Homo sapiens: one gene and its partners. The protein of the gene in region 1 interacts with the protein of each later gene in a pairwise test. Each region holds a gene or a part of one and is shown in the gene's direction. Other genes may lie near its edges.

Region 1 (2,840 bases):
GAAGCCCCCCCAGAATCCTGTGGACACCTATGACGTCCAGGTCACAGCCCCTGGGGGTGAGCAGGCCTGAGGCCTCTGGAGGGGACTTGTTCAGGGTGGGGATTGCAGGGGGGAGGCTGGACTCTGGCCGAGGATGGAGGGGGCAGGCCTTGATGCCCCTCTCTACACTCCCAGCCCCGCCTCTGCAGGCGGAGACCCCAGGCAGCGCGGTGGACTACCCCCTGCATGACCTTGTCCTCCACACCAACTACACCGCCACAGTGCGTGGCCTGCGGGGCCCCAACCTCACTTCCCCAGCCAGCATCACCTTCACCACAGGTAGGGTCTGTGGGGTGTGTGGGACAGGGAGAGGAGGTAGAGGGAGCCAGGTTGGGCCTCATCCCCATCTCCTCTTCCTGCTTTCCCTCCTAGGGCTAGAGGCCCCTCGGGACTTGGAGGCCAAGGAAGTGACCCCCCGCACCGCCCTGCTCACTTGGACTGAGCCCCCAGTCCGGCCCGCAGGCTACCTGCTCAGCTTCCACACCCCTGGTGGACAGAACCAGGTGCCCCGGCCCCACTGACCCAACTCCCCTCCCTGGGTGATTCCAGGAGGTGCTGCCTCTGGCCCTCCCGGAGGGTCTCCACCTCCCTCTCCCCTGACCCCCCCTTGTCTGTCCCACAGGAGATCCTGCTCCCAGGAGGGATCACATCTCACCAGCTCCTTGGCCTCTTTCCCTCCACCTCCTACAATGCACGGCTCCAGGCCATGTGGGGCCAGAGCCTCCTGCCGCCCGTGTCCACCTCTTTCACCACGGGTACCTGGACGCACGGGCCCGGGGCCGGGGGCTGGGTGGGCAGCCAGGGCCTAAGGCTTGGAAAAGGACTGGCCCCTGCTCTCCTCTCCCAGGTGGGCTGCGGATCCCCTTCCCCAGGGACTGCGGGGAGGAGATGCAGAACGGAGCCGGTGCCTCCAGGACCAGCACCATCTTCCTCAACGGCAACCGCGAGCGGCCCCTGAACGTGTTTTGCGACATGGAGACTGATGGGGGCGGCTGGCTGGTGGGTGGCATTGGGAAGCCCAGGGGTCTGTGCAGGGCAGGGTCTGTTGCCCCGGGAGCCAGAGGCTGATGGTGCCCCCACTTGCTTCCCAGGTGTTCCAGCGCCGCATGGATGGACAGACAGACTTCTGGAGGGACTGGGAGGACTATGCCCATGGTTTTGGGAACATCTCTGGAGAGTTCTGGCTGGGTCAGTGCCTCACAGGGACTGGGGAACTACGGATGGGGATGGGGGCCCTGTGGACACCAGGACCCTGATGAGGGCACGTATCCCACCCCCAGGCAATGAGGCCCTGCACAGCCTGACACAGGCAGGTGACTACTCCATGCGCGTGGACCTGCGGGCTGGGGACGAGGCTGTGTTCGCCCAGTACGACTCCTTCCACGTAGACTCGGCTGCGGAGTACTACCGCCTCCACTTGGAGGGCTACCACGGCACCGCAGGTAAGCAGAGGCTGTGAGGCTGGGAGGGTGAGGCTGGGAGGGGAGGCCCTCATGGCTCCTTCCTCCACCCTGCCCAGGGGACTCCATGAGCTACCACAGCGGCAGTGTCTTCTCTGCCCGTGATCGGGACCCCAACAGCTTGCTCATCTCCTGCGCTGTCTCCTACCGAGGGGCCTGGTGGTACAGGAACTGCCACTACGCCAACCTCAACGGGCTCTACGGGAGCACAGTGGACCATCAGGTGAGGGGTGGGGAGGCGGCTCAGAGCTGGGGTGGCTGGGGCTCGGCCTGCCTAGGTTTCAGCCCCACAGTGTAACAGGCAAGGGACTGAGTGGCTGGGTGAAATGGAACAATCATGCCAGCCTCGCAGAGGGAGCTGGAGTTGATTTATTGGCTGGAAAGGGCCAGCTCAGAATTAAGCCTCAATCCTCTGCAGCGGAGGGTCAGGAAGGGAGCTCTGCGGGGAGGTTGGTTGAGTGCTGGGAGCTACCTCCTTAAGGGGAACGGGAAGAGCAGATGGGACATCCGGCTTTGACTCTCTCTTGACAACCCCTTTCCCAGGGAGTGAGCTGGTACCACTGGAAGGGCTTCGAGTTCTCGGTGCCCTTCACGGAAATGAAGCTGAGACCAAGAAACTTTCGCTCCCCAGCGGGGGGAGGCTGAGCTGCTGCCCACCTCTCTCGCACCCCAGTATGACTGCCGAGCACTGAGGGGTCGCCCCGAGAGAAGAGCCAGGGTCCTTCACCACCCAGCCGCTGGAGGAAGCCTTCTCTGCCAGCGATCTCGCAGCACTGTGTTTACAGGGGGGAGGGGAGGGGTTCGTACGGGAGCAATAAAGGAGAAACTGAGGTACCCGGCTGGCATCGGTCCTGCCCCATCACTGGCTCTGGCCCGGGCTGTGGGCCCCCATCCCCCGGGGCTGCAGCCGCACTTGGAAAGGCTGCATCTTGAGGATGACACTGCAGTGGGGCAGGGGCTGCAGGGAGGGCAGGGCGTCCCCGGAGGGCAGCAGCGTGAAGGCCTGCAGCAGTCGGGTCAGCACCACGAAGAGCTCCAGGCGCGCCAGCGGCTCGCCCAGGCACACGCGGGCACCGCAGCCGAAGGCCAGAGCTCTGGAGTTCTTGCCTGGCTCCAGGAAGCGATCTGCGGGCGGGTGGACAGGTGGGTGGGGAGGCGTTCAGCGGCAGCGGGGACCAGCCTCCACCACATTTTCACGGCAGGCCCCCGGCCCCCCACATACCAGGCCAGAACTCATGTGGCCTCTCCCAGACCGTCTCATCCAGGTGGGCGCCTTGGAGGTTCGGAATGATGACTGTGCCCTCAGGGATGTCGTAGCCGGAGATGCTGAAGGGGGCTGGA
Region 2 (3,754 bases), on another chromosome or scaffold:
TAATTCTGTATTATTTTTTGCTTGCAGATGTCAAATTAGTCTATGTAACTCAAAGGCTTAGGTTTATGCCTTTCCAGTCAAGCTGCTGTTATGGAAAACAAATACCCAAGCAATATGAACTTACGGATATGGAGGAAGGGAGACATATTTGGGACCAAGGCTCATTAGTAGGTTAGGGTCTGCTGTACCTACCCGTCTGCCAACATCTATCTGCCAATATTCCCAGACTTTCCTGTTTCTAAATGCTGATTTAGATAAATGCTTTTCTAACCAAAATGAAGCAGTATGGTATTTAAGTCAACCATGGAAATAAGCATTAACATATGTGCCCCCACCTGAAAGACATCAGGTTAGGTTCGATTTGAATCAGGCAGGAGGCCAGATGCAATCAAGTCCCTGAAGTCTGGAACTCCACCAGAAGAAGAGATCAGGCTCCCCTGCCCCAGGATCCTCCAGACTGCAGAAGATCTAGGGAGGTCAGAATAGAGCAGGGCTCCCACATCTTTGATAAAATGTGATTTTGTAAACTAGAAGAAAGGGGGAAATGGCAAAAGCAGGCCTTTCTCTAAAAGGTCTAATAAACGGGATGATGCCGGGGTACTTTCCAGGCCTCCCTCATGCCATCTCTATCTCTACGATTACATCACAAGCCCCAGAACACCCTGGCTCTACACGCAAGGCAGGCCACACACTGGACTGCTTGCATAGACCTAGAGCAGTTCAGTGGCTCAGTGAGGACTTGCTATCCCAACTGGACCAAGTTGGAAGCCCTACATGGTATGTGAGATCACAGAATTGGTATTTGATACCCCTGGAAATGGTTGCATCGTCATTTCACCAATACAGCTACACTTTCCTCTAAGGCCTGTGGGTTTGACATTGATCCTTATATGTTTATTTGTTCATGGGCTTGTTAGAAAGCTTTTAGATTGAGATTTAGGCAAAAAAGAAAGTGAACTTGGTTTTTAGCCGTAAATTTCTCTAGACCATTCTTAGGTCAAACTAACCAGCTTCCTTCTGCAGAAATTGTTCAGTGCTACATGGGCATGTGAGAACAAATTTTGCGTGCTCAGTGCTAAGACACTTTCTCCCACCAACTCTACCTTTCTCATAACAAGATCTTAAAAGATGATTTCATTCCCTCAGTCCTTAGGTGCTGTCCTGTCCTCAGGTGCTGATGTCTAATCACCACACTGTTTGGTTCAGTCACCTGCTATCATCCCTCCAGTTTAGGGGTTCTGTCTCTTTAATCAGCAGGCAAAAAATTCAGACTCAGGCTTTTGACCCTGCAAAATGGAGAAGCATGTACTGCTTTTGAATTTTTAAAAAAAAAAAAAAACAGTTAGAAATTTGACACTAAGACATCTAAGCAACTGGGTGGAGATCTGAAGTAGCAAGTGAAAATGATACCATTAATGATATTGATGATGGATGTAAAGGCAATTGCAAACAATTGGTTTTTTGTTCTTAACTCCAGTCAAACACTTACCAAAACAACTAAACTGGTTGGACTTCAACAATCTAAATGAAATCTTGAAGCATGAATGTATTTCCCATGCAGTATGGAAAGGAAGAGAGAGAGAAAGTAGTTAAAAAACAATCTCCATTCCTACCACACACCTTTGGCTTGCATTGTTCACCACCTTTTAAAGTAATGCCTGATGTGTTATATGCTGGTCCTCCAGAAATTCTAAACTTTCCCCAGAAGTGACCTTTGTTCTCCCAGTGCCTCACAACACTCTTAAATACCAAAGAGCTTCAGGGGGCAAGGACAAGAATTTTCTAAAGGAAACCCTTCTCCACTTGCACTGGACAGGCTGTCAAGACCCAGCAAGACACTTTGTCATGTTATCTCACTCCACATTCGCTTTCTCTCCTTGTAGCTACCTCATCCCTGAACTCCCAGCTCCAGCAGCTCCAGCTCCAGCTCCAGCAGCAGCAGCAGCAGCAGCAGCAGCAGCCTCCCCCGTCAACCAACCAGCACCCGCAACCAGCCCCACAGGCGCCCTCGCAGTCCCAGCAGCAGCCGCTGCAGCCCACCCCACCCCAGCAGCCACCACCCGCCTCTCAGCAGCCGCCAGCTCCTACATCTCAGCTGCAACAGGCGCCTCAGCCCCAGCAGCACCAACCCCACTCCCACTCCCAGAACCAGAACCAACCATCTCCAACCCAGCAGAGCTCCAGCCCCCCGCAGAAACCTAGTCAGTCTCCAGGACATGGCCTGCCTTCACCGCTCACGCCACCCAATCCTCTACAGGTATGCTCCCCGTGCTTCCCGTCTGCCCCTAGGAGCACCAAGGACCTTTCCATGGGGTGGTGCCATCCCCAAAGGCAGAGGGACCACACAAAACTTAGCATCCAGTTCTGCAGCATCTAATTCAAATTGATCTCTTAGACATAGGGAAGAAGAAGCAACTAGAAGGCAACTGGGGATGCATGTAAACGAAACAAATAGAAGCCCATTTCTGTTGCCCTCCAAAGGATAAATGTTATCTGTTTCCTTCTGTGAGAGGCCAGCACTATAAGTGCATTTGGAGCCTGTAATAATTCCATTTTATGATACTTTTTGAAGGCAGCAAAGATAGCATCCAATTAAAATTATTACTAGCACAGTTTTGTAGCCCCATGGAGAACTGCATCTACTGTCCATGAGGCATGGTGGTTATTTCTCTATATTATGAATACAACAGTGTCTCACCTTAAGTACTTTGTGCTCTTTTGTTTCTATTTTTCTAAAGACTCTCTGGGGTTAGGAGGGCAAAGAAATTTAGCCCCAGTCTTATGTCCCAGATTCCAACCATTACTCCACAGACTAACAAGTACTCTAAATTCATGCCAAGAGCCTCAACCAATATGCATCTTTATAAAGGAATAAAACTTCTATAGGTTTACTTTATTACTGTGAGGCTGAGAGCTTCATAAATAGATATTTCAGGCTAACCATGAGAGCTCATCTATAACCTACCTATTGAGAAGGAATGGATAGGTGCATTCATATATATATATATATATATATGACTTTAAACTTCAGAAAACCATTTTTAACTTAGGTGTCTTTAAAATAAATTAGCTTCAAAACATAATGACTGTGATGTCATCATATCAGATCCAGAAATTAATAACTCAGCCAAGCCATCCATTCTTTGACTTGCACAATGACATTTTTCCCTGTGAGATTTCAGACAATCTCGTGTATTTGTAGTACTGTGACAAAGTTAAACAGAGTGAGCAGCCTGTGGACCTGTTTCAAGTGCCATCTCATCCCCTTGCCATAGTGGTGGGTATAAACCTCAGTCAGTCCGGCTCTCCCCAGCCTGAGAATGACAGTAGCGATGGTATCCTTGGCTCCTAAATAGAAAAGTATACAAAATAAAGACAGGTTGGTACACGGACAGAAAGGCAGGTGGATTAGAGACTTGGTATTTTAGAACTTAGTTTGTTGTCCCATAGCTTTGTCTCTTCCAATTTGGATTCTCAGTGGTGTGGCCCAAAGCATTCCTAGAAATGAACACATTTGGGAGAGATGAGTCATTGTGTTTTTCTGGGCTCTTGGGCCAGGGCTACTTTCAATTTGAACATTTTCATGAGTGGAGTTTCAAGATGTATTTATACAATTCTTACGATGGTGAGACAACGTAACACCTTTGACCTAGGACTAAAATGAACATGGTCCAAAAACGTCTTCATTGTCCACTTGACACCTACTGAAAGAGCAGGTGTCATCAAATTTACAGAAGGCATGATTACAGCAACC
Region 3 (3,754 bases), on another chromosome or scaffold:
ACCGCCCCGAGTGGCTGGCATTGTTTATTATGTCGCTGATATTGTCCCAAATTTGGCCATTGGGAGTTCCTTCTAGTTGGTTTCTGTGACTTTTGACACAACCCCATCATTTTTCAAGCAGTTCCTTACTTCTGGCCCCACAGAATGTTTACTTCTGGCCCCACAAGGCTCCTCTTGTGCTTTCTTGCCCAGCCCTGGATCAGCTATTTCTCCAGGGACCCCTGGTTCCTTTCATGGGAAAATGATGTTTACAGACCATGGGCACCCATATGCCCATTGCTAGTAGGTGCCGGTGCTTCTATGCCCTCTAGTGGTCGGAGCTGGGAAATAACACACCCACACTAGTGTACTGTTACCCACATTTCACAAATTAGGTAAATGAGGCACAGAAAAGTTAGACAACTTGACCAACATCACAGAGAAAATAGGTAGTAGAACTGGAAAACAAAAATAATGACAGATGCACAAGTCCTAACAAGCAAAAGTAACTTCTTCACACATGCATGTTAGCAGAAAGCCACAAGCCCAATATTCCAGCATAGACACTCTCTTTGGAAAATAACCAGAATTCCACAGCAATAAACACAATGATAACCATCACGTACTCAACACCCGCCTGGACACTGGGCTCCCACATATTCCCAACAACTCTGCAAGGAGGATTTTACCATCCTCCTTTTACAAATCAGGGAATCAAGGATCATAGAAGCCAAGTGACTTGTCCAAGTCAACATAGTTAAGTGACAGAACCATTAGCTGAGCCCAGGTCTATATCTGGATATAAATTCCATGCTTATGCCACTATATAAGCATTTCCCAAAACTGATTTTAGGTGAAACATAAATAAACTTTTAAGTTTAACTGTGTTTATTTTAACGCATGACAGGAAAAAAAATTAAGCACACATCAAATCTCTGATTTCATGGACAATATTGCATAAGACAAAAATATTTTGTCTTCAGTTCCTGGCCTCAAGCCATCCTCTCACCTCAACCTCTTGAGTAGCTGAGATCACAGGTGTGAGCCACCAAGCCCTGCTAAGACAAGGATGTTTTGTAAACTAAATTTAATTACAAAAAAAGTATGAAGTAAATAATAATAAAGGTGGTAAAGCTGTAGAGAAAATCATAAAGTTGGTCTAGAAATGTCTGGGGTCTGGATGACATAATACTACAGCACCATGCAGCTTCATTCTCAGTTACTCCCAGGAAATTAGAGTCACATAACACTGCAGAAAGAACAATTCAGAATCTTAGACCCGGGCTTTAGCCCTGGATGTGTCCACTCCTAGGACCCCAAACATCTCTGTGACCTCCTTGCTGGAGGTAAATCCAACCTTCCCAGACGTGTGAGAACACTAGGAACATCCTGCACACATAGAGGGGTTTCTCTGTCACAGAGAAAATAACACCAGGTTTGAGGACCCCAGGGACTCTCTGTGTGGTGCTGACAGACCCAAGGCCCAGACACAGCAGAGGTCCGTGCTGGGGAGGGCGGGTCGTCCTGTTATGGAACAGGGGTCCAAACAAGCTTGCTTCTCAGAGCATCTTCTGGGGAACTGAATATAAACAGAAAGGGAAGAGGAGGAGGGACAAAAGAGACAGAAATGAGAGGGGAGGGGATAGAGGATTCCTGAACAGAGACCGCACCCATGACCCACGTGACCCTGGGAAATGCTTCTATCCCTGAGAGGAGGCTCAGCACAGAAGGAGGAAGGACAGCAGGGCCAACAGTCACAGCAGCCCTGACCAGAGCATTCCTGGAGCTCAAGCTCCTCTACAAAGAGGTGGACAGAGAAGACAGCAGAGACCATGGGACCCCCCTCAGCCCCTCCCTGCAGATTGCATGTCCCCTGGAAGGAGGTCCTGCTCACAGGTGAGGGGAGGACTCCCTCGGAGTGGATGGGAGGAGGGAGCACAGAGACTGGCTAGGGTCTCCTGGGGAGGACAAGGCTCTGAGAGGAGACAGAGGGCTTTTGTTGAAGCCTGAGGAAACAGAACACCAGAGAGGGACAGGGGTCACAACAGGAAAGTCACACTAAACTGGGATTGATAAAAAGGGAGGAAAATCAATTGATCATGTTTTCCAAGTTAATCATCATTTGTCATTACCATTTGAAAAAAAAGAAAAATGATAGAAATCAGAACTGCATTAGGATGACACTCCAAATAAAAATATAACAAGGAAACTAAATGCTGCCCTTACTCACCAATCAGAAGTTGAAAAATAACCACCAGATACACTCATTAACTCATCCACAAGCATTTGCAATCAATTTTAGTCAATGGCATACAACAAGCATCAGACAAGTCTCAGTCATCACAGAGCTTATGCTGTCATGAAGAGGAAAACACACACACAAAGAGATATAGAATGTGAGGTCAGGTGTTGACAAGAGCCCTGGAAGGAACAGAGCAGGGAAAGGTCAGAAAGAAAAGACCCAGGGTCTGTAGAGGGGGTGTCAGGGAAGGGATCTCCCAAGAATGCCCTGATGTGAGCAGGACCTGAGGCCAGTGGGGAGGGAGCCATGCAGACCCCTGGGGAAGAGCATTCCACACAGGGAAATGCCAAGGTCAAAGGTGCTGAAGGAATGGGGGTGTCACACTGCTGACTTTGACTCAGTAGGACACACACACACACACACACACACACACACACACACACACGCTCCAACGTGGAGGGGTGAAGAGACCTGCTCAGGACCCAGGGCCCTGTTTTTCCACCCTAATGCATAGGTCCCAATATTGACCGATGCTCTCTCCTCTCTCCTAGCCTCACTTCTAACCTTCTGGAACCCACCCACCACTGCCAAGCTCACTATTGAATCCACGCCGTTCAATGTCGCAGAGGGGAAGGAGGTTCTTCTACTCGCCCACAACCTGCCCCAGAATCGTATTGGTTACAGCTGGTACAAAGGCGAAAGAGTGGATGGCAACAGTCTAATTGTAGGATATGTAATAGGAACTCAACAAGCTACCCCAGGGCCCGCATACAGTGGTCGAGAGACAATATACCCCAATGCATCCCTGCTGATCCAGAACGTCACCCAGAATGACACAGGATTCTATACCCTACAAGTCATAAAGTCAGATCTTGTGAATGAAGAAGCAACCGGACAGTTCCATGTATACCGTGAGTATTTCCACATGACCTCTGGGTGTTGGGGGTCAGTTCTACTTCCCACATACGGGATTGTCAGGCCTGGGTTGTGCCTGTGGCCCTCTCTGCATTACATCCTGTATCAGGGTTTGGACATTTAGTGCAGGACACACACGGGGGAGACAAACTTCCACAGATCAGAATTCCTTTCCTGGATCCAGACCCTGCAGACACTCGCTGCAGAGGAAGGACAGTCTGATGGGGGGACTCAGCAGGGCGAGGTCAGTGTCAGACAAGCACCCCATGGTCTCCCCATGGACCTGACCCTGAGAAAGACCCTGGAGAACTGGATCAGGGCCTGGCCTGAGGGGTCCCCCTAGGGACCCCTCAGAGAGAAGCTCAACTCTTCCCTGAACTGAGCCCCTGTACAAAGCCCTGTCCCTGGTTCCTGATTCCAGGTGATCCTGGGGAGTCTGTGCCAGGGCTGTGTGGTGGCCTCTTGGGCAGGGCTGGCTGGGAGCAAGGATGTGAGCTATCCAAGGGCCATGACTCCTGGAGTTGGTCACCAGCCAGGTCCGAGCACCCAGAGCCTCATCTAGCTGAGGATAGGGCCTCCTCCTTCACTTGAGGCTCAGCATGGAAAGGACAGATGGAA

What was found.
Region 2: the proteins of TNXB (region 1) and POU6F2 interact in binary tests that used the Homo sapiens proteins (3 or more experiments, as listed by UniProt).
Region 3: the proteins of TNXB (region 1) and CEACAM6 interact in binary tests that used the Homo sapiens proteins (3 or more experiments, as listed by UniProt).

The regions. Positions count from the first base shown.
Region 1 is NC_000006.12:32,040,653-32,043,492, reverse strand, and holds the end of TNXB (tenascin-X isoform 3 precursor), read left to right. Parts: coding exon 1-56; intron 57-174; coding exon 175-318; intron 319-411; coding exon 412-542; intron 543-661; coding exon 662-794; intron 795-886; coding exon 887-1,038; intron 1,039-1,130; coding exon 1,131-1,227; intron 1,228-1,319; coding exon 1,320-1,481; intron 1,482-1,558; coding exon 1,559-1,722; intron 1,723-1,848; exon of another isoform or gene 1,849-2,042; coding exon 2,043-2,144; 3' UTR 2,145-2,340; downstream 2,341-2,840. Other genes in the region: CYP21A2 (steroid 21-hydroxylase), read right to left, coding at 2,359-2,624, 2,722-2,825. UniProt on the Homo sapiens protein: Appears to mediate interactions between cells and the extracellular matrix. Substrate-adhesion molecule that appears to inhibit cell migration. Accelerates collagen fibril formation. May play a role in supporting the growth of epithelial tumors.
Region 2 is NC_000007.14:39,337,759-39,341,512, forward strand, and holds part of POU6F2 (POU domain, class 6, transcription factor 2), read left to right. Parts: exon of another isoform or gene 1-1,362; intron 1,363-1,883; coding exon 1,884-2,257; intron 2,258-3,754. UniProt on the Homo sapiens protein: Probable transcription factor likely to be involved in early steps in the differentiation of amacrine and ganglion cells. Recognizes and binds to the DNA sequence 5'-ATGCAAAT-3'. Isoform 1 does not bind DNA.
Region 3 is NC_000019.10:41,753,828-41,757,581, forward strand, and holds the start of CEACAM6 (cell adhesion molecule CEACAM6 preproprotein), read left to right. Parts: upstream 1-1,702; 5' UTR 1,703-1,811; coding exon 1,812-1,875; intron 1,876-2,772; coding exon 2,773-3,132; exon of another isoform or gene 3,133-3,754. UniProt on the Homo sapiens protein: Cell surface glycoprotein that plays a role in cell adhesion and tumor progression. Intercellular adhesion occurs in a calcium- and fibronectin-independent manner.